4 linked regions of the Homo sapiens genome follow. The protein of the gene in region 4 interacts with the protein of the main gene of each other region in a pairwise test. Each region holds a gene or a part of one and is shown on either strand. Other genes may lie near its edges. The genes, in order: RNF4, MORC3, SUMO1 and ARK2N.

The links.
Region 1: the proteins of ARK2N (region 4) and RNF4 interact in binary tests that used the Homo sapiens proteins (3 or more experiments, as listed by UniProt).
Region 2: the proteins of ARK2N (region 4) and MORC3 interact in a two-hybrid assay, tested with the Homo sapiens proteins (one large-scale study listed by BioGRID and IntAct).
Region 3: the proteins of ARK2N (region 4) and SUMO1 interact in binary tests that used the Homo sapiens proteins (3 or more experiments, as listed by UniProt).

The regions. Positions count from the first base shown.
Region 1 is NC_000004.12:2,510,606-2,518,808, reverse strand, and holds the end of RNF4 (E3 ubiquitin-protein ligase RNF4), read right to left. Parts: intron 6,854-8,203; coding exon 6,844-6,853; intron 6,372-6,843; coding exon 6,212-6,371; intron 5,727-6,211; coding exon 5,678-5,726; intron 5,140-5,677; coding exon 4,990-5,139; 3' UTR 2,952-4,989; downstream 1-2,951. UniProt on the Homo sapiens protein: E3 ubiquitin-protein ligase which binds polysumoylated chains covalently attached to proteins and mediates 'Lys-6'-, 'Lys-11'-, 'Lys-48'- and 'Lys-63'-linked polyubiquitination of those substrates and their subsequent targeting to the proteasome for degradation.
Region 2 is NC_000021.9:36,372,289-36,379,459, reverse strand, and holds the end of MORC3 (MORC family CW-type zinc finger protein 3), read right to left. Parts: intron 7,087-7,171; coding exon 6,929-7,086; intron 4,318-6,928; coding exon 4,164-4,317; 3' UTR 2,828-4,163; downstream 1-2,827.
Region 3 is NC_000002.12:202,215,162-202,223,364, forward strand, and holds part of SUMO1 (small ubiquitin-related modifier 1 isoform a precursor), read right to left. Parts: intron 4,946-8,203; coding exon 4,871-4,945; intron 1-4,870. UniProt on the Homo sapiens protein: Ubiquitin-like protein that can be covalently attached to proteins as a monomer or a lysine-linked polymer.
Region 4 is NC_000018.10:46,177,980-46,186,182, forward strand, and holds part of ARK2N (protein ARK2N), read left to right. Parts: intron 1-8,203. UniProt on the Homo sapiens protein: AMPK substrate important for exercise capacity and skeletal muscle function.

The sequences.
Region 1 (8,203 bases), on a different chromosome or scaffold from region 4:
CCGTACCCAGCTACTTTTGTATTTTTAGTAGAGACGGGTTTCACCATCTTGGCCAGGCTGGTCTTGAACTCCTGACCTCGTGATCCACCCACCTCGGCCTCCCCAAGTGCTGGGATTACAGGCGTGAGCCACAGAGCCCAGCTTAACAACACATTTCTCAGAACATATCCCTGTAAGGTGGGGCGCAGTGGCTCACGCTTGTAATCCCAGCACTTTGGCAGGCTGAGGTGGGTGGATCACTTGCAGTCAGGAGTTCGAGACCAGCCTGGCCAACATGGTGAAACTCTGTCTCTACTAGAAACAGAAAAAATTAGCTGGGCATGGTGGTGCACACCTGTAATCCTAGCTATACTCTGGAGGCTGAGGCAGGAGAATCGCTTGTATGTGGGAGGTGAAGGCTGCAGTGAGCTGAGATCATGCCACTGCATTCCAGCCTGGGTGACAGAGTGAAAATCTGTCTCTGGAAAAAAAAAAAAAAAAAAAAAAAAAAAAAAAAAAAAAGAACATATCCCTGTAGTTAAACAACATATAACTATGTTACCCAATACATTAACTGATTAGAGAGGCAAACAAATCTTGTCTCAATAGAAGCAGAAAAAGGACTGGTAAGATTGAACATTCACTTGTGACCAAAAACAAAAATAGAGAAACCCTGTCTCTACTAAAAATACAAAAACTAGCCAGGCGTGCTGGTGCATGCCTAGCTACTCAGGAGGCTGAGGCAGGAGAATCGCTTGAACCCCGAGGTGGAGGTTGCAGTAAGCCGAGATTGTGCCACTGCACTCCAGCCTTGGCAACAGAGCAAGAATCTGTCTCGTTAAAAAAAAACAAAAACAAAAAACAGAAATTGAAGACAAATGCCACTAGGTGTCATGGCTCATGCCTGTAATCCCAGCACTTTTGAGGAGGCCGAGGCAGGCGGATCACCTGAGGTCAGGAGTTTGAGGGCAGCCTGGCCAACATGGTAAAATCCCGTTTCTACTAAAAATACAAAAATTAGCCGGGCATGGTGGTGCATGCCTGTAATCCCAGCTACTCGGGAGGCTGAGGCTGGAGAATTGCTTGAACCCAGGAGGCGGAGACTGCAGTGAGCAGAGATTGCACCACTGCACTCCAGCCTGGGCGATGAGTGAAACTCCGTCTCAAAAAAAAAAAAAAAAAGATAAATGCTTATCTCATGGTAGGAAAATGAACCTCCCTCATCTGACAGTTATCTAACTAGAACCTACAGCAAACATCTTTCTTGATGAAACACTAAAACACAAACACCATTTGTGTGTAATAATAATGTACTGGGCTAGGCTGGGCGCGGTGGCGCACACTTTTAATTCCAGCACCTTTGGGAGGCTGAGGTAGGAGTATCGCCTGAGGCGAGGAGTTAAAGACCAGGATGGGCAACGTGATGAGACCCCCGTCTCTACAAAAATAGAAAAAAAGAAAAAAGAAAAAAAAAATAGAGTTGGGGCTGGGAGTGGTGACTCACGCCTGTAATCCCAACACTTTGGGAGGCCGAGGCGGGCGGATCACTTGAGATCAGGAGTTTGAGACCAGCCTGGCCAACATGGTGAAAGCCCGTATCTACGAAAACTACAAAAATTAGCTGGACATGGTGGCACGTCCCTGTAATCCCAGCTGGTTGGGTGGCTGAGGCAGGAGAATCGCTTGAACCTGGGAGGCGGAGGTTGCAGTGAGCTGAGATCGAGCCACTGCACTCCAGCCTGGGCGACAGAGCCAGACTCCGTCTTAGGAAAAAAAAAAAAATAGCAAGGATTCTGGATACACAATATAGAGAATCAATTGTTTCTATGCTGCCAAAACAAAACAAAACCACCCCCCCACCGAAAAAGTTAATACAGACATCTTTTGAGTTTCTATAGCCAGCCTTGGGGGCTCCCTCCTTTCCAGGACCAGACCCACTCCAGCAGTACCAGTCTTAGGGATACACTGCTCCCTGCCTCCCCTAGGCTTGCTCCTGGGGTAAAGAACTGCCAGGCCCTGGGTAGCCACCAGAAGTGTCTGGTCCAATGCCTTTAGGTATCGGGGAGCCTGCAGACCCTACTGTATGCCAGCAAGAAGCTCTTTCTCATAACTTTCACAGGCCTGGCCTGGGGTCTCTGGAATTCTTTCCTCTTTCCCTAGAGAGCTTTCTGGACCTTGAAGATGGCAACTTAGCAGCCCTTATTCAGAGAGAGCTTTCTGGACAGCTTCAACTTCTTCCTGCTGGATCTCCTGGTTTCCCGTACCCCACCCTCATCAGTTTCAATTTTCCAGTGGCCTGGGGGACTGTCTCCTCTGTAAACATGTTCCATGATGTCTGTCTCACTGCCCACAGAGCCAAAAGTGCAGTGCCAGGAGCATGGTAAGCAAACTGCACTGGATGGTAGGCCTTTGGGACCCAGGCAGCCAGCATGTTAGCCTTTCTAGTCCCTGGGGACAGCTGGATAGGTACAGAGGGCAGAGGCAAAGGGAGAGCTTGGCCACACTGCCAAGCCCATTCCCTCCTTGTGGCTTTGCTGGCACTGCTCGCCTGTGGCAGTGGCTGGCATATCCATGCACTCCCAGTGCTGACTCCCACTCAGAGGGCAAATTTTGTATCTAGGTGGTCAGGGGCAAAGGGGGGTGCTGCAGTGCAAGGTTTCCAGGGCAATCTCAGTCCATCCCACTCAGAGCAGCACCCCCAGCACCTCTGAGAGACTGGCCGAGCTGAGCAGACAGCTCCTTGGTCAACCTTGCCTCTCAGAGTAGACTCTGCTCTCTTAGGGACTCCAGGGCTTGGGCTTGTGGCTGTGCTCCAAGAACAGCCTCTCACATGCTTGCTGGATTTAGGACATGGAAACTTCCTGAACACACACCAATGCAAAATACACTCAACGTGAGGCAGATAAGAACCCCGCACCTTGGCAAAAAGGGGGGAAATTGATTCCAAAGAGCAAATGAATGTGTAAAAGATATTTGGTTCAAATTAATGGTTTTATTTCCATCTGTAACACTAGCAGAGGAGTCCAAAGCAGACTGATATCCATGGATATAGTTTAAATGTAACAAAGAAAGAGTTGAACTATGTACATTGAAAAAAGGAAAGACATTTCTTCATACCAACCTTTCCCTAGTTCGCAGTTTCTGAATAGTAGAAACAAAACACATTTTTAAATCTTTCTATCAATTTAATTTAGGACGAAGTAACACAACTTTTATAATTAACCACTGAAGTTGTCTTTAAGGACAAAACTTAAATTTTAAAATGGGTGTTACCATATTTTATGAGTGGACTGACTCCAAGGTTGCCTTGCTCCAAGTCTGGGCATCGTGACATTGCCGTGATGCCCAGAAGAAAGTTAATGGCAATGATGTCCAGTCAGAGGGCAGACATGCTACACATCACAATGATGAGAGCTGCGGATTCTGCCCTCTTCAACTCCAAGTAGAAAATTATTATTTTCATTCAAACTAACTGGAAGTGAGCCAAACAGTTAAAAAGTCAGAATGAAGAATAAAACAATTTTCTTTTCACATAGAGGAGGGACACTCCTTCAGCCCCGTCTAAAGTGAATTCTGTGCTGAGTCCCTGCTCCTTCAGAAGGGTAAACTGAAGGTCAGTTATTGCTAACAAAGCCAGAAGTGGCCCCTTTCCCGCCCTGAAGATGTTTCACACGAAAAGGCCGTTTGTTTGGCGTGAGGCCCTCTGAGGAAGGACGACAGTGGAAGAGGAGGCATGCCGGCACTGTAAGGCCTCTCTCGTTAGCCACCCCCCAGGCCCTGTGCTGTCAGGGGCAGCTTGGGCCACTTTGCTGCCCCTGAGAGAACCTGAGGCTCCCGCGTACCTGTGGAGCGAAGGAGAGGTTGTCATCTGGGCCCCTGTTTCACCAGTCAAAACCTATGGAGCAGTCAGAAGCCCGAAGCATCCAAGCCCAGTGGCCAGGAAGCTTCTGAAATAAACGGCACTGGGTTGGGAAGGATGAGAAAGCCAAGACAGGTGGGCCAGGTTCTCCGAACATGGGGCAACAGTGACCTGGGCAAAAGCCTGGAACTGAGCGGCTGATAAGGCCACAATTACTGCCACCACCTCTCAGTATCTACACGGGGGCAGACGTTAGGCAGTGGGAACTGAGGACTGGAGGGCGTGTGGCAAACACGGGATGGATTTTATCAGAAAAGAGAGGACACCCAAACACGTGCCTGCCCTATTTATCTTGCATGTCCTGTGCCAGGTGAAGGACGCTGGAGCATGGGTAAGGTTCCTGAGAACAACTGGTGGGCAGAAACGGGCTGGGATGGGCACTGCTCCACAGGCAACATTAAGCCTCTGAGGGGGACACTAATAGTGCTACATCTTGTGGGCTGCTGAAAAGTAGGTAACGAATGGCCTTTATTGCACTTTTTCGTTCTTAGGAAACAGGGGAGTGCCCTGCAGAGTTTCTCTTGATTTGCAGAAATCACTGCAGATCAATGATAAGGTGCAGGCAGAATCACGGGTGACCTCTGACTCTCAAGGGAAGAAGTCCAGTGATTGGTCTTTCCAGGGCCTCAAGGGGCCACTCTTCAACCTGGGATCCTCGAGCTGGGTGAACCGGGTCTGGCTTGGTCAATGTGTGGCAGGCAGATTGGTCGACCGGCAGACACTTGGGACAAAAGGTGGTGTGCCCGGGAAAGCTGGGGCAAACTTTCCAAACAGGGAAAATTTCTTGGCAAATGTGCAGATTCTGCAACCAGACTGGAACCACGATTCCCAATGCGCCTGACTCCCTTTCTCCCACTCTAGAACTGGACCACCCCAGAGGAACAGAGATGGCCTGGGAGGGCCCTGGGTCCAGCGCCATAGCATCAAACTGGAGATAACAAAAGGAAGGGGTTGGAAACAAAAGAGCAGTTTACATATCAGATGTTGGTTTCGAAACAGTCTTTTTGATCTCAGGAAAATGGAGGCAGATACCACTGGAGAACCTGGCTGTCTGTCTGTCCATCCGTCTCTCCTGGGGGGCTCTGAATACTTCATATATAAATGGGGTGGTACCGTTTGTGGTTGATCTTTTTCCTACAAGTTGGGCAAGTATTAGCATTCTTCAGGGAATCACGGAGGCACTGGCTACAGAAGACATGGCCGCATTCTGTGGAAACGATGAGACGTCCATTCTGCACGATCTAGAAGGCATTAAAAAGAAGAGCCTCCGAGTTTGCCCTTGTCCCAGAGCAGCCATGGGGCCAGAGAATCCCACCCACCTATGCCTAAGATGACTAATTAAAGGAAAGCAAGGGCCAGGCTACAACAGGGAGGGGTCTGGAGAGCTAACTGTGTCTGCTGTGGTCTCTCTCAGCTGGAGAGCAGGAGGCAGGGGCCATGGCATCTCAACAGTGTGACAGCCCAAGAGGGTTATGAGGGACCCCAGTAAACACTAGCAGCTTTCAGTTAGAGCCAGGATGGGGCACAAAAAAGGAGGACGCATTTGCACCCGGAAGCTCAGGGCATACAGGAGTATAGGGGCTGAAGGTGAAAGTTGTAGGGTCCAAGGAGAAACTGGCACATTCTCCCCTCACAGGCAGATCTGCAATAAGTGACGGCCCAGGCATGACTGTGAGTAGGGGTGTCCAATCCCACCGAGGGGGAAGATCCTGTCTCATCCAATTCTTTCAGTGAAGTTTAGAAACCAGAAGCCTGGAAGATACAGCTTGGTTTACTTACCTCTGAGTATCCGTCCATGCAGATGGGACAACTGACAGTACCTGAGGGCCTAAGAGCACAGTGCTTCACGTTAGTTTCTCAGTCAACGCAAACATTTTATTATACCCTGTCACGTGAGTGGCCCCTATCCCCTACAAGAGTCCCGTCCCTGGCCTCCTGACTCTGCCTTAGCGCGGGCATCCGAGAGACTTTCAGGAAAGCCAACTGCCCCAAGGGCATGTGGGAGGGTGAACATGAGAAGGTGCACACAACCTGAGTCACCCTGCCCTCCCCCAGGCCCCTACCAGCCCCAGGATCCCTGTCTGGGGCCACTGGGACTGTCTGCACACACTGTGTCAGCGCTTGGCATCCTCTGGTTACAGTGGGAATAGCTGGACTCAGTTCTGGACCCAGTTCCAACTGTATCCAGATGCTGGGTAGAGGCTTGGGCAAGCCCTTCCAGGGCCAAGGGCTCACAGATTTGCTGAAAAGTATTCCCATGCCCTGGCCCCACATCCTAGCATGGCGGCAGCAGAGCTGGGGGCACGTTGGTACCTGAGGCCTGTAGCGCCCTCATCCCTGGCGTTTCTGGGAGTATGGGTAGTCACATATACGTCTCTGTCCCTGGACAACTCCTCATCGTCACTGCTCACCACACAGCTGTCAGCATGGTCCTGGGGCAGCCTCCTAGCATTCCTCCTTGGTCTTCTTCTTTCTAAGGTAAGAGGTCACATTTTCAGGTTGGAGGCTCTCTACTCTTACCATCCTCACCACTCCCATCCTGACGCCTCTTAAGACCCTCTTCCTTCCCTGCCTGGGACCCCCAGAGACAAACTGCTGCCATGCTCAGCTATAACCCAGAAGGTTCTGCCCAGCTCTGGAGGCCACTATCTTATCTTCCCAGGAGAAACCCCCCAACCCCTGCTGTGAGCTACCAGCCTTCTCCAAAATCTGGTAGGCCACAAGAAAGGACTATAGCTCAGTGCTCAATGATAGTGGTGAAGTTTCTTCAGCAGGCACAAGGGGGACTGGCTGTGTGGGTCTGACCACAGCATCTGCGAAGGCATCTTCCTGCTTGGAGCGCTCCAAGCCCTTGGGGATGGTCTGGCAAGACCTGCAGCACCGCGGCTCTCACCTATGCCAGTTTCCTCTCCAAACCCAGTGAAAAAGGAAACGAAACCACTCACCGTCAACAATCTTGTAAACAGAAGGAGAAAAACAAAAGAGAAAGAAGCAATCAGTTTGATATAAGTGATAAACGAAGCCATTTCTTTTTTCTGACGTGTGACACCCTCTGTGGAACCCTCTGGTGAGCAGCAGAGGCCCCACCCTCCTCCCACCCACAGAGGATCTGTGCACCTCTCCCAGTCAGTCAAGCCCACTTCCCAAGTCACTCCACCTCCCAGCTGATGTGCTGTGTCTCTCCCTGCTGGGTGTTTAGTGGAGTCTCCTGGAGCGTGAACACAGCCACAGCCACACCATGTGCTGACTGCAAGACCTGGGGACCTTCCTTACTATCTGGGGGCTGCCACAGCCACACCATGTGCTGACTGCAAGACCTGGGGACCTTCCTTACTATCTGGGGGCTGCCACAGCCACACCATGTGCTGACTGCAAGACCTGGGGACCTTCCTTACTATCTGGGGGCTGCCACAGCCACACCATGTGCTGACTGCAAGACCTGGGGACCTTCCTTACTATCTGGGGGCTGCCACAGCCACACCATGTGCTGACTGCAAGACCTGGGGACCTTCCTTACTATCTGGGGGCTGCCACAGCCACACCATGTGCTGACTGCAAGACCTGGGGACCTTCCTTACTATCTGGGGGCTGCCACAGCCACACCATGTGCTGACTGCAAGACCTGGGGACCTTCCTTACTATCTGGGGGCTGCCACAGCCACACCATGTGCTGACTGCAAGACCTGGGGACCTTACTTACTATCTGGGGGCTGCAGCTTTCTCTTCTGAAGCAGAGTCACCAGAGCCCACATCTGACTGTGCTGTTGTGAGGGTTACGTGAGGCAGTGAACATTTAGACAGCACTAGGGGCATGATGCTCTCTCAAGCTGACGCGACCAATGTAGGCCACTGCCAAGGTGGAGCCTTCATGTGGAGGAGGATTTGCATTGCTCAGTAGGTTGTTACAAGTAACTAACAGAGAAAAGCAGGCTATGCATGACCAATGCGTGTGACACACACCAAGGATTGAACACAATCCAATTCTCTGTCCTGGGGGCCTAAGAACCTGACAAGCCTCTCACCTGCCAGCTCAGAACTTACATCTAGACAATTTCTGCTCCAACAGTTTCAAACGTGGTTCCTCCCACCTTCTGGCCAAGTGCTCTTACCCATCTAGGGGGGCCAGTGGAACGCCCTTTCCCTCTTGCTGAGCACGTAGGAGGGGCTGTTTCAGGAAAGTTCTCACCACCAAAGCCCTACTGCTCACCTCACCCTGCCTGTCCCCTGGGCAGGACATCCTGCCCTACAGTGACAAGAAGCTCTAATCCTCTACTCTGACTCCCGTGCAGCCAGGATCCTAGACGT
Region 2 (7,171 bases), on a different chromosome or scaffold from region 4:
AATAGGACTTAACCAGTCAGGCGCGGTGGCTCAAATGCCTGTAATCCCAACAATTTGGGAGGCCCAGAAGGGTGGACTGCTTGAGTCCAGGAGCTTAAGACCAGCCTGGACATGGCGAAACCCCATCTCTACAAAAAATAGAAAAATTAGCTGGGCATGGTGGTGCACGCCTCTAGTGCCAGCTACTCGGGAGGCTGAGGCAGCTGGAGCATTTGGGCCTCGGAGGTTGAGGCTGCAGTAAGCCATGATCACACCACTGCACTCTAGCCTGGGCAACAGAATGAAACCCTGTCTCAAAAAAAAAAAAAAAAAAAAAAAAAAAAAGACAACCTACTGTGGATTTTCTGAAATAGGAAGAAATGGGTAGTGTGTCTGGGTAGTTTTTGGGTGGTGTGTGGCCAAATTAACACAAGCTTTCAGCTTCTTTACAGCAAGAAGACAAGAACACAGTGGAAAAGAATAGGCAAAGAACATGTATAAAACACAGAAAATTAAAATGGCCAATGTAAGGACTGAGACAAATGTCAGCTGTCATATTTTCACATATCAAATTAGCAAAAGTAAGTTTGAGAGACTTTGAGGAAAACACTCATATTTATTACTCATCCTAAGTATAAATTCCTGCAACCTTTTTTTGGATGGCAATATTTATTTAAATGTACATGGCATACATTCTTTGACCTATCAATATTCACTGTTAACAATTTACACTCTGGATTTAATCGGAAAATCATGTGTGGTATGTATTAATCTTCACAGTATACTTTGAGACGGAGTCTCGCTCTGTCACCAGTCTGGAGTGCAGTGGTGTGATCTCGGCTCACTGCAACCTCTGCCTCCTGGGGTTAAGTGATTCTCCTGCCTCAGCCTCCCAAGTAGCTGGGATTACAGGAGCCCACCACCACGCCCAGCTAATTTTTGTATTTTTAGTAGAGATGGGGTTTTACCATGTTGGCCAGGATGGTCTCGATCTCCTGACCTCATGATCCACCCACCTTGGCCTCCCAAAGTGCTGGGATTACAGGCACGAGCCACTGCGCCCAGCCAGTATATTCTTTCTAACGAAAAGTAAGTAAGTAAGTAACCATTAGGAGCATATTCCTATGATGAAATGTTACTTAAGCTTTTTGAAAGAATGATATGGAAATGTTTAGTTATCAATTATATGGTATAATCCCACTGTGTAAATATCGACACAAATATACGCAATTTAATGTAAATAAAATACATACACATGAATGTGTGCATGTATGCACACAAAAGCCAATAGTGGTTACCTTTAGAGGCCGTGGAGAAAGTCTTTTCACTGTTCATTTACATCTCTACCGGGGCACCGCTCTGCTTCCCCTCCCTCCCCCTGCTTGCCCCAGTGAGAAAGTGGATATGCTGATCCCGTTTGTTTCGTGAACCACTCAAGTTCAACATTTATAAATACTCAACAGAAGACACAACTCAACAGTGCTTGGCTCTGATGGTGCACTGGAATTAACCCGGGAGGCCTTGAAAAATACTGTTATCTGGGTCTAACCCCAAGGACGCTGACTTAATTAACGTGAGGTGCAGCCTGACTTTGGGAGTTTAAAAAACTCCCCAAGTAATTCTACTACGCAGCCAGAGGTGAGAACTTAAATGATTCCTCAATGATGTATGACCCAAGTTTAAGACGTCTCATGTGACAGCAAGAATCAAGCGTCTGAGATCACAGGCAGCGTCACCAACTGGACCTGCCACATGAAGAATTTGAGGCCCAAAGGAAGCACACAGGGACGTGCCATGCCCTCCTGCTCTGTGTGCTCACTCAGCTTTCACTGATTTTGCCACCCTAGGTCCTGTTTGAAGACTGTGGACTGTTTTGGTTTACTTCCTCATACCTTTCGTGTTTTAAAGTAATAAACATTAGTTGAAGCAATACTGTCCCCCACATGCAACAAAAGAAAGAGAAAGGTACATACATCATGAAAGCCCACGTTGTTCTGTTAAACAACAGTTGTTCTGTCTGCAACTGTGAGCCACATTTTCGAAGTCTCATATCTTGGCAATACTTCAATATCTTCATAAAGAGCAAAAAGTATCTAAGTGCTTCCAAAGAATCAATTTAGCAAGCAAGTTTCTCTTACTAATCCCATGATTAATTTTCCCATCAAGCCAGACAGCTACAGGAAATATTTTTGCAAGAATACATAGAGAAGCTGGCCAAAAGGAAGGGAAAAATAGCAAATTCCAAAAAGAACCACTGCATGAGTTAGATATTCACAAAACTTACATATGATTTACATAGCTGCTATTATTTAGGCAAGGTTTCTCTAGAGTAAATGATTTATACAAAGAAAAGTCCTTTTTTTTTGAGACGGAGTTTCGCTCTTGTTGCCCAGGCTGGAGTGCAATGGTGTGATCTCGGCTCGCTGCAACCTCCACCTCCCAGGTTCAAGTGATTCTCCTGCCTCAGCCTCCTGAGTAGCTGGGATTACAGGCATGCATCACCACACCCGGCTAATTTTGTATTTTTAGCAGAGACGGCATTTCTCCATGTTAGTCAGGCTGGTCTTGAACTCCCGACCTCAGGTGATCCGCCCGCCTCGGCCTCCCAAAGTGCTGGGATTACAGGCGTGAGCCACTGCGCCAGGCTGAGAAAAAGCTTTTGAAAACAGAATATACATGCTCTGAGGAAAGAGGAGCTCAGCCTCAGTCTTAATGGAAACAGTCTTCAAAAAATAAACTGCAATTAAAGTAGTTAAAATGAGCTCAAGTTGAGGGTCTAATGAATACATTTTTAGTTTTAAAATAATTTGAGGTTAATATTAAGTCTTTAAAAGTAGCATTTGAACAGTTAGCCATCATATATTTTTATTTTATTATAAGATATTTTAAAATTTGGGAAATTACAATTGTGACAGAAAACCAGCTTCATACCAAAAATACACTTTCAATTACTTTATCAGGCAAATAAAAACAATCTTCATTTATTTGCTCTTTCCAGAATTACTATACAGTAAAAATTCAATACTGTATATGACCGACACGTATTAAGCATACATACAAAATGAACGGATTGAATGTTCAAAAACAAAGGTAAAAATAAATAGCAATGATAAAACTTTGGAAAAAATAATGCACATTTTAGTTGTGGAAAATATGGTTCTTATATATACATAGTTTATACTTAATAGAAAGCCATCTCTTTAAAATTGCACAAAACATGGGACCAATAAAGCATAGTATTTTATGGCATGTAATACTATAATCCTAAGGAAATTTGTTCCTTGACTCTAGGATATAAAACACTTAGGTTTGTAATATAATAAAAGGTATGTAGTATTGTTTGAGAAAGACTGTCTTCCTCAACTCACATTAACCTGTAGTAATCCTACAAAAGGCTGTACAGGAAATTTCACAAAAAGAAATATTAAAAAATTATCATGCCCACTTCATGCTGACTAAACAGCCAAAAATGGGCTTCAAAGTAAACTTGGTGGCCATTTAATATTTCAATACCTTTTTTCTGTTAAAGACTGTTTCTTCATTCTATAAAAACACTTTGTGTTTAACCGTGATTGGCAATCTCAGCACAACAAAATCCTGGCAAAATGGAGTTGGTTTTTGCTTACCTTATTTTCATGAATAAAATATTTCAGGACAGGAATTTATACAAAAGAAACATTAATGCTCAATTCACTTATAACCAGAGTTGTATCAGGAGTGTTACTACATTATTTAAAAATCCTATTTAAACTCCTTTATAAGAAAATCAAAGGTAACATTTCCATTTGTATTATGGCATAGCCCTCGACTTAGAGAAAAATACACTTTGGGGAACCAGAAAAAATTGCACAAAGCTTAGGGGCAACCTGAAAAGCTCTTGGTGAAAAACACTTGAGTACTCTAGGGCAATAAAAAAATATGTGCAGGCTTAATTACAAATATTTACATTCAAAACAGAGTCATGAGTTAGCTTCAGCTGCTCAATGCCAACAATTCACAGGTATTTCAAAACATAAGATAATGTGTCCACAATATTTGTGACCACATTTGAATGCATAGAATACAGTAAAGATTATGGTTTTCAGTCTGTTGCCTATCATATCTATAAAACAAAATTAATTATATTTTGAAAGCTGTACAACCAAAAGAATTGAGCAAATATTTTATCTTACATAACATATACTTTAAGTACTACTGATTTCACTCATTTGTTCAACAACTTGTCCTAAAATCTCATCAACTACATCAACATCGTAATTCACTTGCTGAAGATCAAGATCAGGCACAATCATAGCCAGCAGTTGTCCTACGTTAACTCGAAGAGATCGGAGTTTGAGGCTGCAAATACAAATATGTAACTTATTAGATGAGCATTACAAGTTAAGATTCATGTAGACCTTAAAAAGTAAAATATCAAAATCAAATCTCCGTAGAATAATATACAATTAAACAAAAGGAAAAGCAAAACCTCCCCTAGAGAACTCAATTTACTTTAATAATTCACTTTTATGAGTCAGGTGCACTTGCCCATGCCTGTATTCCCAGCATTTGTGAAGCCGAGGAGGGAGATCGCTGGAGCCCAGGAGTTCGAGACCAGCCTGGCCAACATGGTGAAACCCTGACTCTACTAAAAACACAAAATATTAGCCGGGCTTGGTGACGACACCTGTAGTCTCAGCTTCTCAAGAGGGTGAGGTGGGGGATCACCTGAGCCCAGGAGGTCAAGGCTGCAGTGAGCTGCGATGGCACCACTGCTCTCCAGGGTTCACGCAATTCTCCCACCTCAGCCTCCTGAGTAGCTGGAAGCACAGGCCCACACCACCATGCCCGGTTAATTTTTATTATTATTATTTGTAGCAATGGGGTTTCACTATATTGCCCAGGCTGGTCTCAAACTCCTGGGCTCAATCAAGCATTCTGCCCACCTCAGAGTGCTGGGATTACAGGCATGAACCACCATGCTTAGCCAGAATTATCTAAAACATGTTCTATAAGATATCCATAGTTGTGTAAGAGGTAATAAAAGGTTCTGTGGTCAAATAAGCTTGCAAAACATTGTGTTAAACAATGTTAAAGCAGCTTTTTTTTTACGCCGGGCACAGAGGTTCACGCCTGTAATCCCAGCACTTTGGGAGGCTGAGGCGGGCAGATCGCCTGAGGTCAGGAGTTCAAGACCAGCCTGATCAACATGGTGAAACCCCGTCTCTCCCTAAAAATACAAAATGTAGCTGGGCGTGGTGGCGCACACCTATAGTCCCAGCTACTGGTGAGGCTGAGGCAGGAGAATTGCTTGAACCTGGGAGGCAGAGGTTGCAGTGAGCCGAGATTATGCAACTGTACTCCAGCCTGGGCATCAGATCAAGACTCTGTCTCCAAAAAAATAATAATAATAATAATTGTAGGACTGCTCTGATCCTATTACATGCTTAAGTTACCGTGCATTTACAGAGAACAATGGTTTGCTGAAAACACTGGGAAACCATAGATTAAGATAATTATGCCTTCCAAGTTTATGAATATCAACATTCTAGACTTTTTAAAAAATGCCCAAAAGTATTTAAGCAATAAACACCTAAACTGTAAGGCAGCTTTTGCTTCAAATATTATGGCAAACACATAAAATGAGTGTTACAGTTGTTCTTGTTCCCTACCCCACTACAATATAATAAGTCCATATTTAATTTAGATACTGATTTTTCTCGAGTGGAAATCTATGAAGGGATCAAGATGTTCTTCCTTAGTCTGATAATGCGGAGAATGTGATTTTGAGCATGTTTTTTTGTGAGCTTTTATGGTAAGAGTCCACTAGACCTTTGATAATACTTTAATCGTTCCCATACCAGCTTTTTTTTTTTTTGAGACGGAGTTTTGCTCTTGTTGCCAAGGCCACAGCGTGATGGCGCGATCTTGGCTCACTGCAACCTCCTTCTCCCAGGTTCAAGCGATTCTCCTGCCTCAGCCTCCCAAGTAGCTGGGGTTACAGGTGTGCACCACCATGCCAAGCTAATTTTGTATTTTTAGTAGAGACGGGGTTTCACCATGTTGGTCAGGCTGGTCTCGAACTCCTGACCTCAAGTGATCCACCCATCTTGGCCTCCCAAAGTGCTGGGATTACAAGCATGAGGCACCACGCTTGGTTTTAAGACAGAGTCTTGCTCTGTCACCCAGGCTGGAGTGCAGTGGCGCAATCTCGGCTCACTGCAACCTCCACCTCCTAGGTTCAAGCGATTCTCCTGCCTGAGCCTCCCGAGTAGCTGGGACTACAGGCGCCTGCCACCACGCCCGGCTAATTTTTGTACTTTTAGTAGAGACAGGGTTTCACCATGTTGGCCAGGCTGGTCTTGAACTCCTGACCTCAGGTGATCCGCCCAACTCAGCCTCCCAAAGTGCTAGAATTATAGGTGTGAGCCACCACGCCTGGCCTATCTACTTGTTTTAATAGGACTTCTTCCTAATATCATCTGTACTATGGCAATTTTTAATAATTTTGCAATTTCCTAAAAGATTAGAGTGAGCATACAGTGAAATAAGGACAGCAAGCCATAAAGACATGGTACCAAGTACGACAATAAAAGAAAAACAGGTTGAAGGAGTGAGTTTCAGTAAAAGTCTCCTGTCTTCTACTCATGGCCAAATTCCCCCTATTCTTCAATATCTTGTCCATTTTTATTTTCCTTCAAAAAGCATTCTAAAACCACTCTGACCAATCAAATGCTTTATCCCTTCTAAATTCCTATTCCACTTAAATAGAACCTAAAGGGTCAGAAACTGGAAAGGAAGGATAATGAAGTGTCACTTCTTTTTTATCTATCATAACACCAGGGTCACAGCAGACCATCAATAACTTCTTTTGACAGAACAGTATCTATTTGATGGGTGCTAGCAGATAAAAATAAATAGTATCCTAACCATAATTGCAGCCCCACAAAAACGCCTCATTTAATATTACCTTTCTCCATCCATATGATTTACAGACTCCTCAATGTTACTTGATGTTGAAACATCTGTTGCCGTCTGTTGATTTGTAGATTTTAACTGTTCTACTTCAGTTTTGAGTTCTTCACACTGTGAACGGATTTGTGACTTTTCCATTTCCAGCAATTCAACCTAACAAAAATATAAATGAGCTTTATAACTGTAAAACTTAAAAATACTAATGGCAAAGTGAAATTTCAAGCTAATATAGAGAACC
Region 3 (8,203 bases), on a different chromosome or scaffold from region 4:
AGGTTGCAGTGAGCCAAGAACACGCCACTGCACTCCAGCCTGGGAAACAGAACAGTACTCCATCTCAAAAAAAAAAAAAAAAAAAAAATCACCACATGGAATCTGGTTTCTCTCACATGAGTAAAATGAGTAAGAACCTGAGTTAGTCAAACTGATTTGTGAGACCAAAAATTATTTTATTCTGCTCAGATTGTGAAACAAACTATCAGCCAGCCAATCCTCAGAAAAAATACTGTTACTTGCATAATGTAAACTTTCAAAGCCAAACTTCATGACTACATATCACATTCACAAATGTGTATTTGCAGAAGCTGCACATTTACAGTATTTTTCTTGTGACTGTAACTATGAAGAAATAAAATTATCTTCACATAGATCATTTCATAAACAGATAAAATTCTACAGCAAACCTCATGCTATACATTAAAATCAATTCCAGGCTGGGCATGGTGGCTCATGCCTATAATCCCAACACTTTGGGAGGCCAAAGCAGGAGGATCATTTGAGTTCAGGAGTTCGAGACCAGCCTGACCAACATGGTGAACGCCATTTCTACTAAAAATACAAAAAAATTAGCCAGGCGTGGTGGCGCATGCCTGTAATCCCAGCTACTCGGGAGGGTGAGGCAGGAGAATCGCTTGAACCCAGGACGCGGAGGCTGCAGTGAACCTAGATCTCGCCACTGTACTCCAGCCTGGGCAACAGAGTGAGACGCCATCTCAAAAAAAAAAAAAAAAAATCACTTGCAGATGAATTAAAGAGCTAACATTAAAATTTTTTTGGCCAGGTGCAGTGGCTCACTCCTGTAATCCCAACACTTTGGGAGGTCAAGCCGGGCAGATCACGAGGTCAGGAGTTCAAGACCAGCCTGGCCAACATGATGAAACCCTATCTCTACTAAAAATATAAAAAATTAGCCGGGTGTGGTGACAGTTGCATGTAATCCCAACTACTCGGGAGGCTGAGGCAGGAGAAGTGCTTGAACCTGGGAGGCGGATGTTGCAGTGAGCCGGAAGTACCACTGCACTCCAGCCTGCATGACAGGACAAGGCTCCACATCAAAAAAAAAAAAAAAAAAATTCTCAATATTTTCCCCTCAAGGGAGAATTTTTTTCCCCTAATTTTGGCCTTGGGATGCCCTATTGCAAAGCATGATTTTAACCTAGAAACCATAAAAAAAAGAGGTGGATAAATTTGACTTAATAAAAACATAAAACGTCTGTATAGTAAAAGATGCCATAAACAAAAGTTAAGACATACTGGAGGAAATATTCATAACATGTAACAGACAAGGAAAATGAAGACAATATTTTTAAAAATCCCACAAATTAATAATTCTTAAAAAGACATTCCATGGCATATGGACATATAGATAGATCAATGGCATAAAATTGAGAGCCAAGAAAAAACCCTTATATCTATAGTCAATTTTTTGACAAGGATACCAGAACAATTCAGTGAGAAAAGGACAGTCTTTTCAACTAATGGTCTGGGACAAACACCCATAAAAAATTATTCAAAATGATGAAAGATTTAAATGTAAGAGCTAAAACTATAAATAAAACCATAAAACTTTTTTTTTTTTTTTTTTGAGACAGGGTCTCACTCTGTCACCCAGACTGGAGTACAGTCACGTGATCACAGCTTACTGCAGCCTTGACCTCCCAGGCTCAAGTGATTCTCCCTGCTCAGCCTCCTGAGTAGCTGGGACTACAGGCATGTGCCACCACGCCCTACTAATTTTTTATATTTTTTGTAGAGATGGGGTTTCGCCATGTTGCCCAGGCTGGTCTCCAGCTCCTGAGCTCAAGCAATCTGCCCACCTTGGCCTCCCAAAATGCTGAGATTACAGGTGTGAGCCATTGTGCCCAGCCTTAAAACTCTTAAACCACAAGCGTAAACCTTTGTGACCCTGGATTAGGTAATGGTTTCTTAGATAAATTACAAGCAACAAAAGAAAAAACAGATGAACTTAATTTACCAAAATTAAAAACTTTACGCTGCAAAGAATAAAACCAAGAAAGTGAAAAGACAACTCAAAGATAGGAGAAAATCCATGCAAATCATATATATGATAAAGGTCTAATACCCAGAATAAAAGACATATTACCACTCAACAATAAAAAGACAACTAACCCAATTTAAAAATGGGCAAAAGATCTAAAGAACTTCATTTTTCCAAAGAAGATGTACTAATGGCCAATAAGTACATAAAAAAATGCTTGGCATCATTAGCCATCAGGAAAGAGCAAGTTGAAACCACAGTGAGATACCACTTCACACCCACTAGGATTATAACCAAAAATACGGATAATTACAAGTGTTGACCAGAATATGGAAAAACTGAAACCCTCATATGTTGCTGCTAGGAATGTAAGATGGTAGGGCCACTGCTGAAAACAGTTTGGCAGTTCCTCAAAAAGTAAAACATATAGTTGCATACTAGACCCAGCAATTCCACTCCTAGGTATATATCCAAGGGAGCTGAAAACATATGTCCATACAAAAACACACATGAATGTTCACAGCAACATTATTAATAGTAGCCAAAATATGGGGACAAACTAAATATCAACTGATAAATGGAAAACAAAATATATTCTACCCATATAATGGAACAGAATTCAGCCATTAAAAGGAATATAGTACTGATACATGCTACAGCATGAATGAACCTTGAAAACATGCTAAAACAAAGAAGCCAGGCCAGGCATAGTGGCTCACACCTATAATCCCAGAACTTTAGGCCAAAGAGGGAGAATCACTTAAGCCCAAGAGTTCAAGACCAGCCTGAGCAACATAGCGAGAACCCTGGAGAGGGAGACGGGGATGGGGAGGGGGGGAGGGGAGGGAGGGGAAGAGGAACAGGGAAGCAAGGCAGAAAAGAAGAAACAAACCAGAATAAAAAGTCACATATCAAAGCTAGGCATGGTGGCTCATGCCTGTAATCCCAACACTGTGGGAGGCCGAGGTAGGCGGATCATCTGAGGTCAGGAGTTTGAGACCAGCCTGGCCAACATGGCGAAACCCCATCTCTACTAAAAATACAAAAATTAGCTGGGCATGGTGGTGCACACCTGAAATCCCAGCTACTCAGGAGGCTATGGCAGGAGGGTCGCTTGAACCCAGGAGGTTGAGGTCGCAGTGAGTTGAGATCAGGCCACTGCACTCCAGCCTGGGTGACACAGCGAGACCCTTGCCTCAAAAAAAAAAAAAAAAAAAAAAAGCCATATATCTTATGATTCCATTTATATGTAATGTCCACAAAAGGCAAACCTATAGAGACAGAAAGTAGAATCATGGTTGTCACTGGCTGGAGGAAATAGGATGGGGAATGACTGCTAATGGGTACAGGGTGTCTTTTTGGGGTAATGCAAATGTTCTGGAATTAGTAGTGGTGATGGCTGCACACACTTGTGAATAATACTAAAGCCCCTGAATTATATACTTTAAAATAGTGAATTTTATAGTATGTGAATTTTATCTTTTAAAAGTTTTCAAAATAAAGCCGGCATGGTGGCTCACACCTGTAATCCCAGAACTCTGGGAGGCCGAGACGGGTGGGGATCACCTGAGGTCAGGAGTTCGAGACCAGCCTGGCCAACATGGGGAAACCCCGTCTCTACTAAAAATATTTTTTAAAAAAATTAGTCAGGCTTCGTGGCAGGCACCTGTAGTCCCAGCTACTCGGGAGGCTGAGGCAGGAGAATCACCTGAACCCAGGAGTGAAGGGTGCAGTGAGCCAAGATCACGCCATTGCACTCCAGCCTGCCAACAAGAGCACAACTCCATTTCAAAATAAAATTTAAATTTAAAAAATTTTGAAAATAAAAAATAAAAGTCTTCAAAATAAGATAATCACAGAAAAATGGGAAAAGGGTATGAACACAATTAACAGAAGAATATAAATGTAACAGACCAAAAAAATTATACCTTATTAATAATCAGGTAAATGAAAAATAAACAAAAATGTTTTACCTAGCATATTTGAACAAAATTTAAAGACTGTTAATATCCCATGTTTGGGAGAATATAGGGAAATGGTACTGTCACACTTCAATAGAAATACCACTGCACTCCATCCTGGGCGAGTCCACCCTTCCACCAATTCTCTGTCTTTTGTCCTTTAGAAAACCCACGTAACTATGTAGATTCATTCCTCCAACGGTTGTTAGCTAACCTTAATTAACATTTCAGAATCAATAAGATACAGACTAGAGCCAGGCGCGGTGGCTCACGCCTGTAATCCCAGCACTTTGGGAGGCCGAGGCTGGCGGATCACGAGGCCAGGAGATCAAGACCACCCTGGCTAACACAGTGAAACCCCGTCTCTACTAAAAATACAAAAAAAATTAGCCGGGCATGGTGGCGGGCGCCTGTAGTCCCAGCTACTTGGGAGGCTGAGGCAGGAGAATGGCGTGAACCCGGCAGGCGGAGCTTGCAGTGAGCCGAGATCGCACCACTGCACTCCAGCCTGGGTGACAGAACAAGACTCCATCTCAAAAAAAAAAAAGATACAGACTAGAGTCTAGGGAAATAGGGGGCCAGAAAAGGGTCAGGAAAAGGGCTGATAAACCTTTTACTTAAGGTTGGCCCTAGCCTTAACACTTAATAGTATTCACTGTATTTGCCCCTGAAGCACACTAACCAAGAAAACATTCCTATTTGGAAAAATTAAGATGATCTAAAACTGCCTGGCAGAGTAATTTAAAAAACAGTATCGGCCTCTTCTACCTCTAACAGATGCATACACAGTAAATTAAAATGCATACATAGTCATTTTAAAATAATTTGCCTTAAATAATTTTTTTTCCTGTGAAAAAGTATTCACATTGAAGGGGACTCAAAAGAGAAAAACAATGAAACTCACCTGTCCAATGACTTTGAGTTTAATATATTCACCTTCCTTCTTATCCCCCAAGTCCTCAGTTGAAGGTTTTGCCTCCTGAAAGAAAATTAAATTTCAAGATAAAAGTTCCTACATGCTATTTTAATTACTCACTTATGAGTATCCATTACTTTCATTCAGGATGCAAAATCTGCACCTGAGAATACAAACAGCATTTCTTTTCCATGCCAGTCAATTAAGAAAAAAAAATCCTAAGTCAATTACTGTCCCAAACGCCATTCACTAGAAATCAAGAAAGGGGTCTCTTTTATTATAATACCCCATAGTAATGGTCTAAAACTTTACCACGCATCAAAATCAGCTGAAGGACGTGTTAAACAAACTGCTGGGCCCAAGACCCAGTTTCTTATTCAGCACATTTGTAGTAGGGATAAGAATCTCTTTCTAACAAATTACCAGGTGGTACCGATACTACTGGCCAGAGGAACAACTTGGAAACAACTGCCCTACAGCCAGCTCTTACCAGCACAAAGGAAGTTCATCCTCCATGAATTTTTAGACAAACTTCTGAATCCAAGATTATCTTCTCACAGCCTATCATGAGGAGTTTACTTTAACTACAAAACTGTACTAAGAAATGTAAATTAATCATATTAGCATAAGCAAGGCTATTATTTATTATTTTTTTGAGACAGTTTCGCTCTTGTTGCCCAGGCTGGAGTGCAATGGCTCGATCTCAGCTCACCGCAACCTCTGCCTCCCAGGTTCAAGCAATTCTCCTGCCTCAGACTCCCGAGTAGCTGGGACTACAGGCATGCACCACCATACCCGGCTAATTTTGTATTTTTAGTAGAGACAGGGTTTCTCCATGTTGGTCAGGCTGGTCTCAAACTCCCGACCTCAGGTGATCTGCCCACCTCGGCCTCCCAAAGTGCTGGGATTACAGGCGTGAGCCACAGTGCCCAGCCAAGCAAGGCTATTTAGAAAGGAAAATCAAATAAGAAAGTATTAGCCTAATGTACTCTGGAGTCAAAACGAATCAGTTTTATATAATCAATTATTTTAGACTATCCGAAGCATAATGCTTAAGTTTAAAAGAGGAGACAAAAATAGGAGGACAAGATACTTGAGAGGCTGTGGCACTAGGACTGCTTGAGAGCCCAGGAGTTGGAGGCCAGCCTGGACAACATAGCAAGACCTCATCTCTTCAAAAAAAAAAAAAAAAAGATCACAAAAACAGTTACAAAACAATTTCCAATAAAGAGATACTGAAATGAAAATGAGGTTAACAGAATAAATTAGTTAAAACAACTTCACCATGAAGTATCTCAAGAATAAGCAAATCATTTTTAGTAAAGGGGGTACCTTGGAAAATTTCATGAATAATGTGGTAAAAAAGTAGCTTTTTTTCTCTATGTGCTACACCTTAGTTTGGCCACCAAATTACCCACTTATTTAGATATATACCTTATTATCCGTAATAATTTCAAGCAGTTAATCCGTATTTGATAAGAATAACCATAACCATTACCTGTGTATCTCATGCCAGTAACTTAAAATACAAAATTCTTTAACATTCAACAATTAAAAGAACATATTAAACTAGAAGCAGCTTTTAACTTTAAAATACAGGCTAGAGTCTAGGGAAATGCTTAGATAACAGAACTGATTTCATTAGTATGAATCCTTGCCTGTTTTTCATTCTGCAGTGCTTTTAACATTTGCTGACTACTGACTATTACAGCAGCAGGCAAAATTAACCTTCTTTAGTGAGACAGTATTTCACCTGAAAACTAGAAGACTGTCTTCAAATATAGTCTCTCCACATTTCTATGAATTTATATTCATAGTAAACAGCTGCTTCTTCCTCTAAGTATCTAGAAGGCAAAGAGCTTATTCCATGCAGTGAAGGGCAATAAACAGCAACCAAGCCCTGAGTCCTCTGTAACTGGAAGGAGAGGAGGCCTTAAGAAGCTTTGTTTAAGTTACCACAAAGGACAGCCCCCTCCCCTAGCAGCAATATATCAGCACAACATGAGTGGCTTTGCTCCTGTGTCTCCTAGATAGGGTAGCTATAGCGGCTACTCAGCACAAAAGAATTCTTCCCCTCCTCCCCTCCATCATCCTCAGTGCTTCAGAATTCTCCTAAAGTCCAGCTTCTCCAATCCTGTAACTACTCAGATCAAAAAGCATAAATACCTTCCAGGACTTTAGGGCCTATAACCTAACTCTATAGCATGACATTCTCTGCTTCCACCATCAAGCTCAATTCTCATTTTTCTCTCATCATTCACTCAACATACCCAAAGATTCTGTTCAATTGGACTATTTGCTGTTCCCTGAATATGTCCATTAGCATTACTTCAACTTCAGCCCTTTGCGGCCCTAGTTTCATTTACCTGGAATATATATACATATCCTCTCTCAGCCTCTCTTGAAATCACCTCAAGGATATCTACCTCACACATGAACTTAAGTTCAGTATTTTTTTTTCTTTTCTTTTTTTTTTTTTTTGAGACAGATTTTCGCTCTTGTTGCCCAGGCTGGAATGCAATGGCACAATCTTGGTTCACTGCAACCTCTGCCTCCTGGGTTCAAGCGATTCTCCTGCCTCAGCCTCCCAAGTAGCTGGGATTACAGGAGTGTGCCACCACGCCCGGCTAATTTTTGTATTTTCAGTAAAGATGGGGTTTCCCTATGTTGGCCAGGCTGGTCTCGAACTCCTGACCTCAGGTGATCCACCCACCTCAGCCTCCCAAAGTGCTGGGATTACAGGCTTGAGCCACTACGCCCGGCCTGCTTTTTTTTTTTTCTCTTTTCTATGACAGAGTCTCGCTCTGTCACTCAGGCTGGAGTGCAGTGGCACAATCTCGGCTCACTGCAACCTCAGGTTCAAGCGATTTTCTCATCCCTCAACCACCTGAATAGCTGGGATTACAGGCATGCACCACCATGCCCAGCAATTTTTTGTGTGTGTATTTTTAGTAGAGACAGGGTTTCATCACATTGGCCCAGGTTGGTCTTGAACTCCTGGCCTCAAATGATCTGCCCACCTTGGCCTACCAAAGTGCTGGGATTACAGGCGTGAGCCACCATGTAAGGCCAAGTCCAGGATTTTTTAAAACTCGTCTATGAACCACAGCACTCCCCCAACCTTCCAAATGATATTAATATCTTCCTTTAATGCTCCTACTTGCAATTTATTCATATATTTTATGGCATTTATTTTCAACTTAAAAATACTCTCCCTTGACCTTACTTCTCTAGTCGTTTTTCTCCCCTTTTTTGTTTCTTTTTGTGGTTATTGTTGTTGTTGTTGTTTTGAGACGGAGTCTTGCTCTGCTGCCCAGGCTG
Region 4 (8,203 bases):
CTCTAGTTGCAGGAACTATAGTGGTGAATAAGACCAACAAGGCCACCTGGTGCTTAAGGAGCTTAGACATTTAAACCTGAGGTTCGAGTTGGATTTCCAGGTGAGCATGCCAGGCTAGGGCAGCCTAACCAAAGTCATGATTATCAGTGCACTTGAATGGTTAAGTGGGGCCAGTGCCTTGAGTTTTCAAAAGGAATGGATAGGGCAGATGGAGATAGGGCCAAGTTGCAAAGGTACCTTATTAGTCCGCTAATGGGTTGGGAATTTTCTTCTTTTTGGAGGAAAGAATTCCAGGTAGAATGTGAAGAATGAGATAGGCATTCCTTTTATTTTTATTTATTTATTTTTTTTGAGACAGAGTCTCACTGCGATGCCCAGGCTGGAGTGCAATGGCACAATCTCCGCTCACTGCAATCTCCACCTTCTGGGTTCAAGTGATTCTCCTGCCTCAGCCTCCCGAGTAGTTGGGATTGCAGGCATGTGCCGTCATGCCAGGCTAATTTTTGTATTTGGTAGAGACAGGGTTTCACCATGTTGGCCAGGCTGGTCTCGAACTCCTGACCTCGGGTGATGCACCACCTCGGCCTCCCAAAGTGTTGGGATTATAGGCGGGAGCCACCATGCCTGGCCCTGACATAACTTTTTAAAGATTTTTCTGGGGCTACGTGCAGTGGCTCATGCCTGTAATCCCAGCACGTTGGGAGGCTGAGGCCGGTGGATTGCTTGAGCCCAGGAGACCAGCCTGGGCAACATGGCAGAACCGTCTCTACAGAAAAATTAAAAGATTATCTGGGTGTGGTGGCACACGCCTGTAGTCCCAGCTACTCAGGAGGCTGAAATGGGAGGAGCAGTTGAGCCCAGGGGTTTGTGGCTGCAGTGAGTGGTGATCATGCCACTGCCTGAGACTCTTTCTCAAAAAAAAAAAACAACAAAAATATTTTTCTTTATTATCCTTAAGTTGAGTGAATACAAATTTTTTTTGAGATGGAGTTTTGCCCTTTCACCCAGGCTGAACTGCAGTGTCAGGATATCTGCTCACAGCAACCTCTGCCTCCTGGGTTCAAGTGATTCTCCTGCCTCAGCCTCCCGAGTAGCTGGGATTACAGGCGCGTGCCACCACACCCAGCTAATTTTTTATATTTTTGGTAGAGACGAAGTTTCACCCTGTTGGCCAGGCTGGTCTTGAACTCCTGACCTCAAGTGATCGCCCACCTTGGCCTCCCAAAGTGCTAGGATTACAGAGGTGAGCCACTGAGCCCAGCCCAGTGAATATAAATTTTATTGGTTTTATTTATTTTAGTTTGGTTTATTTATTTTGATTTCTTGGTCATCAGATTAAATAAATCTGATAGTTATTTTTCTTTAGTTGTCAATTTCCAGTCTTGGTTTTGAGTTTGACTGTTGTCATGATACTCTTCTGAATCCTTTTAGCCTTTACCTGTACCTCTTTTCCTTACTTTTTCAGAACTCTTATGATTCCACTTAAAGAAGCAGTGTTTTTTACTTCTGTGTGGGCAGCTTCTCTCAGCAGAAGTGGGATTGATGTTCAGTCAGTCAGTTTTCACACTCAGCCTACAGGGCCTTGTAAAAGTAAGGAGCAGGAGCAGGGTGAAACTAAAAAGTAATCTTGCTTTTTTAAAGTTATCTTTTTTTTTTTTTTTTTGAGACGGAGTTTCGCTCTTGTTGCCCAGGCTGGAGTGCAATGGCGCCATCTCCGCTCACCGCAACCTCCGCCTCCTGGGTTCAAGCGATTCTCCTGCCTCAGCCTCCCGAGTAGCTGGGATTACAGTCATGTGCTGCCACGCCTGCCTAATTTTGTATTTCTAGTAGAGAAGGGGTTTCTCCATGTTAGTCAGGCTGGTCTCAAACTCCCGACCTCAGGTAATCTGCCCGCCTTGGCCTCCCAAAGTGCTGGGATTACAGGTGTGAGCCACTGCGCCCGGCCTAAAGTTCTCTTCTATATTCCTGAACTGCTAGGAGAGGAAACTATGTGATCTATGTGTTATACAGATTTATCGGAACATATTTGTAGCAGCTGATAATAGTAAATGTGATTTTAAAATACTTTAAAGTAGCCAATATAACTGAGATTTGATAAGTTGTTTGATTAGTTGTTAGGAATTTTGGCTTTAATTTACAGTGTTTTAAGTTTTGTTTCTGTTCTCTTTCATGTCTGTTCAAAATAAGGGACCTCATTCCTCTTTGCTCAGACTCTGCCACTTAATAGGTAGATGGTGTAAATTCCTAAATTATTAACTTGACTTTAAATAATTTTAAAACCTACCTAAATGAGTATTTTCTAGTTAAGTGACAATTAATCTAAAGTGGAAATCTATCAGCAGGGACTTAATGCATATGTGGTATTTATACCTGGTTAAATTAAAAACCCATTTACTGAGCATTTACATGCCAGGTGGTAATGGGCACATAAAATAAGCAGTTTGGGGCAGGGCACGGTGGCTCACGCCTGTAATCCCAGCACTTTGGGAGGCCGAGGCGGGCGGATCACCTGAAGTTCGGAGTTTGAGACCAGCCTGACCAACTTGGAGAAACACTGTCTCTACTAAAAATACAAAATTAGTTGGGCATGGTGGCGCATGCCTGTAATCCCAGCTACCCAGGAGGCTGAGGCAGGAGAATCTCTTGAACCTGGGAGGCAGCTGTGGTGAGCCAAGATTGTGCCATTGCACTCCAGCCTGGGCAACAAGAGGGAAACTCTGTCTCAAAAAAAAAAACAACAATAAAAACAAAACAAGCAAGCAGTCTCTGCCCACAGAACTCAACCTAGTGAACCAGATGATTTCTGAGTTTCCTTCCTGCTCTAAAATGTGGAGAAGAGAAAGTAGATTATAAGGGAAAAAAGTACTGCATAACAAAACAACTGTAGTATGGAACTAGTGTTTTCCCTTATAAATTCATTTTAAATAAGGTATTAGAAAATAGCATTTTTCTTGGTATCTCTAAGCTTTAAAAGGCTGGAAACTTAAATGTCGTTTTTTGGGCTGGGCATGGTAACTCACGCCTGTAATCCCAGCACTTTGGGAAGCCGAGGCAGGTGGATCACAAGATCAGGAGTTCGAAACCAGCCTAGCCAACATGATGAAACCGTGTCTCTACTAAAAATACAAAAATCAGATGGGTGTGGTGGTGCACGCCTGTAATCCCAGCTACTTGGGAGGCTGAGGCAGGAGAATTGCTTGAATCTGGGAGGTGAAAGTTGCAGTGAGCAGGGATCATGCCATTGCACTCCAGCTCTGGGCAACAGAGCAAGACTCCCTCTCGGGAGGTGGGGGGGGAAATGTCGTTTTTTTGTAATGCCAGTTCATTTACAAAATACATTTGCTTGTAATTCAAGTTCATGTATTAAGTTCTGATTGTTGTTCAGAGAGAAACAACATTAAATCTGTTAAAACTTAGAGCAGCCATTCCTAAGAATGTATATAACCTAGAATTGTGCCAGGCATGGTGGCTTATGCCTGTAATCCCAGCACTTTGGGAGGCTGAGGCGGCGGATCATGAGGTCAGGAGATCGAGACCATCCTGGCTAACGTGGTGAAACCCCGTCTCTACTAAAAATACAAAAAATTAGCCAGACGTGGTGGCGGGCACCTGTAGTCCCAGCTACTCGGGAGGTTTGAGGCAGGAGAATGGCATGAACCCAGGAGGAGGAGCTTGCAGTGAGCCAAGATCGCGCCACTGCACTCCAGCCTGGGCGACAGAGCGAGACTCCGTCTCAAAAAAAAACAAAAAACTAGAATTGTGCTTGGGTAGTCTAGAAATTAAGTTTATTTTGATTGATTGATTGATTGATTGAGATGGGGTCTTACTATGTTGGCCAGGCTGGTCTCCAACTCCTGGGCCCAAGTGATCCTCCCATTTCAGCCTCTCATAGTGCTGGGATTACAGATGTGAGCCACTGTGCCTGGCTGAAATTAAGTTTTTATTAGCATAATTAGCATTAGAGAAACAAGATACTGACCAAAGTGACCAGTAGAAGTTATTTTTTTACTGAGTTGACTAGTTTAAAAAAATGACCTTTACAATAATGTCTGGAGTCTGCATTTTGTTAGGTGCCTTATAATTAGAGAAAGGTATTGTCGGGGATAGGGAAGTTGGGTGTGGACTAAAATTTAAGGAAAACAGGATTGTTTTTCTTTCTGTATTAAGAACAAAAACTTCATGTGGTTAAAATTTTAAGCAGTATCCTGTCTGCCTTAGTTTTAACCTAGCATAGAATCATAGCTTGTTCTTAAATCAACAGTTTAGTGTCAAGGGTTTCTTACTATTTTTCTCTGCTGAAATCAACTAAGCACTTTGCAGTGAGCCTGAAGGTGTGTATAGTGGAGAGAATTTTGGCAGCTTTTATCTTGGGACCTCAGTTCCTGGCATGTGGTTATCCATCTTTATGTGAATTGTCTTCTGAAGGAGATAGAAAATGACCAGGGCAGAAATCTTGGAGAAAATTTAGAACCTTTGTTTTAGGGCCAGGCATGGTAGCTCACACCTGTAATCTCAGCACCTTGGGAGGCAGAGTTGGGAGGGTAGCTTGAGCCCAGGAGTTTTAGACCAGCCGGGGCAACAAAGTGAAACCCTGTCTCTATTAAAAAATTATTTTTAAAAATTAAAAGAACCTCTGTTTTAAATTATTCTTGATTTACACTGATGATGCTTTTGAGTACTTTAGAGAGTCATTAGCCACAGTGCTTTTTTTTTTTTTTTTTTTTTGCATTTGATAACTTCTTTGGCTTCTTACTTGATGCTAGTTTATTCACAGCCCTGGTGCAGGTCCAGGTACATGCCAGAAGTAGTAATATCTGCAATATGAAGTGATTTGAGCAGCCATTATCACCTTTGACCTATTTATAGAGTTTATATCAGTGGAGAAAAAGTTGGCTGGCAAGCAAGCAAAGCTGATCTCTGGTGGTTGCAATCTCACAATTTATATTTAAGTTCCGGGTAGGCCAAATTCAGTGCATTATGGACAGATCCATTCAGCTGTATTAATATTAGAGTTCCCTTTCTGTACTCTAACTTTTTAGCACTCCAGTTTCCCAGTCAGCTTCACTGTTGAAGGAAAGAAAACCGAAAAACTTACCACACTAAAAAAAAAAAGGAAGAGTTCCTTAATGTAATATGATAGTCAGTGTTCAGATTTCCCTCTTATCTCATAAATGTGTCAGATCAAGAGCCAAATAAGGTCTCTGCATTGTTTTGTAATCTGTAGGTTCCCCCTCCATTTCTTTTCCCTAGCAGATTATTAGTTACAAAAGAAGTTTTCCCAGTGTGGATTTAGCAGTTACATTCCTTTGGATTTCTGTGGTGGTGGTGGTAAACGTTTTTCTCTGACCCCTGGGTTTCTAGTTAATTGGTATTAGATTTAGAAGCTTGATCAGATTGTTTCTATAATATATATTCTTTCTCTTGCTTCTTTTGCAGGGGATGAGGGGAATACTTTATAGATGGTACTTGGATCAGTAGGTGCATAATATTTGGTTCCCTGTGATGTTAGTAGCTGTTGGTGATCGTTGCCCAGTTGTGTTAATTTGTTACTCATAATTCCTTACTCTGAATGGGGCATCCTCTCTCATCAGTCCTAGTTTGAGTCTTTTATGCTTGTTTATAGCTTCTTCAAACTTTTCTTTCTTTTGAGGATTAAGGGAAGGGATGAGTTGCTGTGGAGAAAAGGGCTCTTTCTACTATATTGTATTTCTGTAAGTGTTTTTTATTTTAGTCCTAATCTTTGGTTCTTGCATTGTCTGCATTGTCTATGCTGCAGCTTCTTGGTGGGAAAACTGACTCAAAATCCCAGCAAATAATTGAAAGAAGTCCTTCAAAACCAAATTTTTAAAAAAATTTTTTTCTGAGTTAGAGTCTTGCTCTGTCGCCCAGGCTGGAGTGCAGTGGCGCGATCTCAGCTCACTGCAACCTCCGTCTCCCGGGTTCAAGCGATTCTCCTGCCTCAGCCTCCTGAGTAGCTAGGATTACAGGTGTGTGCCACCATGCCTGGCTAATTTTTGTATTTTATTTTTGAGACGGAGCCTCACAGTGTCACCCGGGCTGGTGTGCAGTGGCATGATCTCAGCTACTTGCAACCTCTGCCTCCTGGGTTCAAGCGATTTTCCTGCCTCAGCCTCCTGAGTAGCTAGGATTACAGGTGCCTACCACCACGCTTGGCTAATTTTTGGTATTTTTAGTAGAGACGGGGTTTCACTAGGTTGGCCAGGCTGGTCTCGAACTCCTGACCTCGTGATCTGCCTGCCTTGGCCTCCCAAAGTGCTGGGATTACAGGTGTAAGCCACTGCGCCCAGCAGTTTTTGTATTTTTAATAGAGACGGGGTTTCAGCATGTTGGCTAGGCTGGTCTCGAATTCCTGACCTTGTGATCTGCCTGCCTCGGCCTCCCAAAGTGCTGGGATGACAGGCGTGAGCTACTGCGCCCGGCCTCGAAAACCAAAATTTATGGCCAGGTGTTGTGGCTCACACTTGTCATCTCAGCACTTTGGGAGGCCAAGGTGGGCAGATGGCTTAAATACAGGAGTTTGAGACCAGACTGGGTAACATAGTGAAACTCCGTCTCTCCTAAAAATACAAAAATTAGCCTGGCTTGGTGGCATGCGGCTGTAGTCCCAGCTACTCAGGAAGCTGAGGTGGGAGAATCACCTGAGCCTAGGAAGGTAAGGCTGCAATGAGCTGTGATTGTGCCACTACACTCCAGCCTGGGTGATAGAAGTGAGACCCTGTCTCTAACAACAACAACAACAACAACAAAGATTTAGGAAGATGAGTATTATGAATGCAATGGAGTCTCTTCATAGAATTGAATGTGTAAGGAGAGGGGCCTTCATTTGAATTTTAGTAAGATACTGCTTTCTACCTCATTTTGTGGTTATGTAGCCAAAGATACTTAGTTTCATAGTGCCTGATTCTTGCATATTTGCGTATACACACACAATCACTTTAAATGCAGTATTCTAAATGTAAGGAAACAGCTTTACTAGGCTATTAGCAGTTGAGTCAGTTTTTGTCTTAGGTTTTATGTAGAAAGAAAAGGGAAGTTACTCTGTGAGAAATCATGTTGATTCTATGTAATGGAATGTATTTTCATATACAAATGAATAGTACTTTTAAGCAAACAAGTTGTTTCATTAGTGGTCTTGGTTTAAAAGATTCAGTTGATCAATTCAACAAATATCAGATATTGATTATGTGTTAGGAACTGTGAGTGAACTGATACTGAACATGATCCCTGTTTTCATGGGAGATGCAACATAGAGGGCTGAGGGAGTAAGTAAAAACATTTAGGTGCATAATTTGTTTCTTTTCAGTTGTCTTTCTCATAGTGTGCTATTTATTCTCCTCCCTCATGTATAAAGTTAACTCTTAACTTCTTGGGCTTAAATTTCCTCTGATAGCTCTGTGTGTGCACATGTGCCACAGTCAGAAAAATCAGGTAATAATTGTTAGGTGTTAATTTTCTTGGATGATTACTAGTATTGTGATTGTCTTCCACCATTGTCATAGCTCTCTACTGTGCTAGCCAACTTGTCTAACTGAAATAACTTTTAAGTCTTTTTGTGACAATTGCTAAAGCCAGCAGGAAGTAGGTCCACAATAATGTTTGAAAGCCCTGCTTCATTCTAGTTTTATCTTCATGCATTGCAATTTGTCTCTTGTTTTCCAGTCTGCATATTCCCTATCCTCAATTCTTGTTTAAAAAACCAGGTAAGGCCGGGCGTGGTGGCTCATGCCTGTAATCCCAGTACTTTGTGAGGCCTAGGCGGGCAGATCACTTGAGGTCAGGAGTTTGAGACCAGCCTGGCCAACATGATGAAACCCCGACTCTACTAAAAATACAAAAATTAGCTGGGCTTGCTGGCTTACACTGGTAATCTCAGCTACTCAGGAGGCTGAGGAAGGAGAATCGCTTGAACCCAGGAGGTGGAGGTTTCTGTGAGCTGAGATCGTGCCACTGCACTGCAGCCTGGGCAGCTTGAGTGAGACCCTGTCTCAAAGAATAAAAATAAAAAAACAGGCAAAACTTCGAAAATACCTTAAGTTGGGCATTTTGGACAGGGAGGGGGGGCATTTTTTTGAAGTGTTTAGGTATAGAATAGGCAAACTTTCACAAAGAGCTAGGAGTGTTTTTATTTTATTATTTTTATTGATTGATTTAAAAGTTTATGGAGAGTGGTTTTTAAAGATGG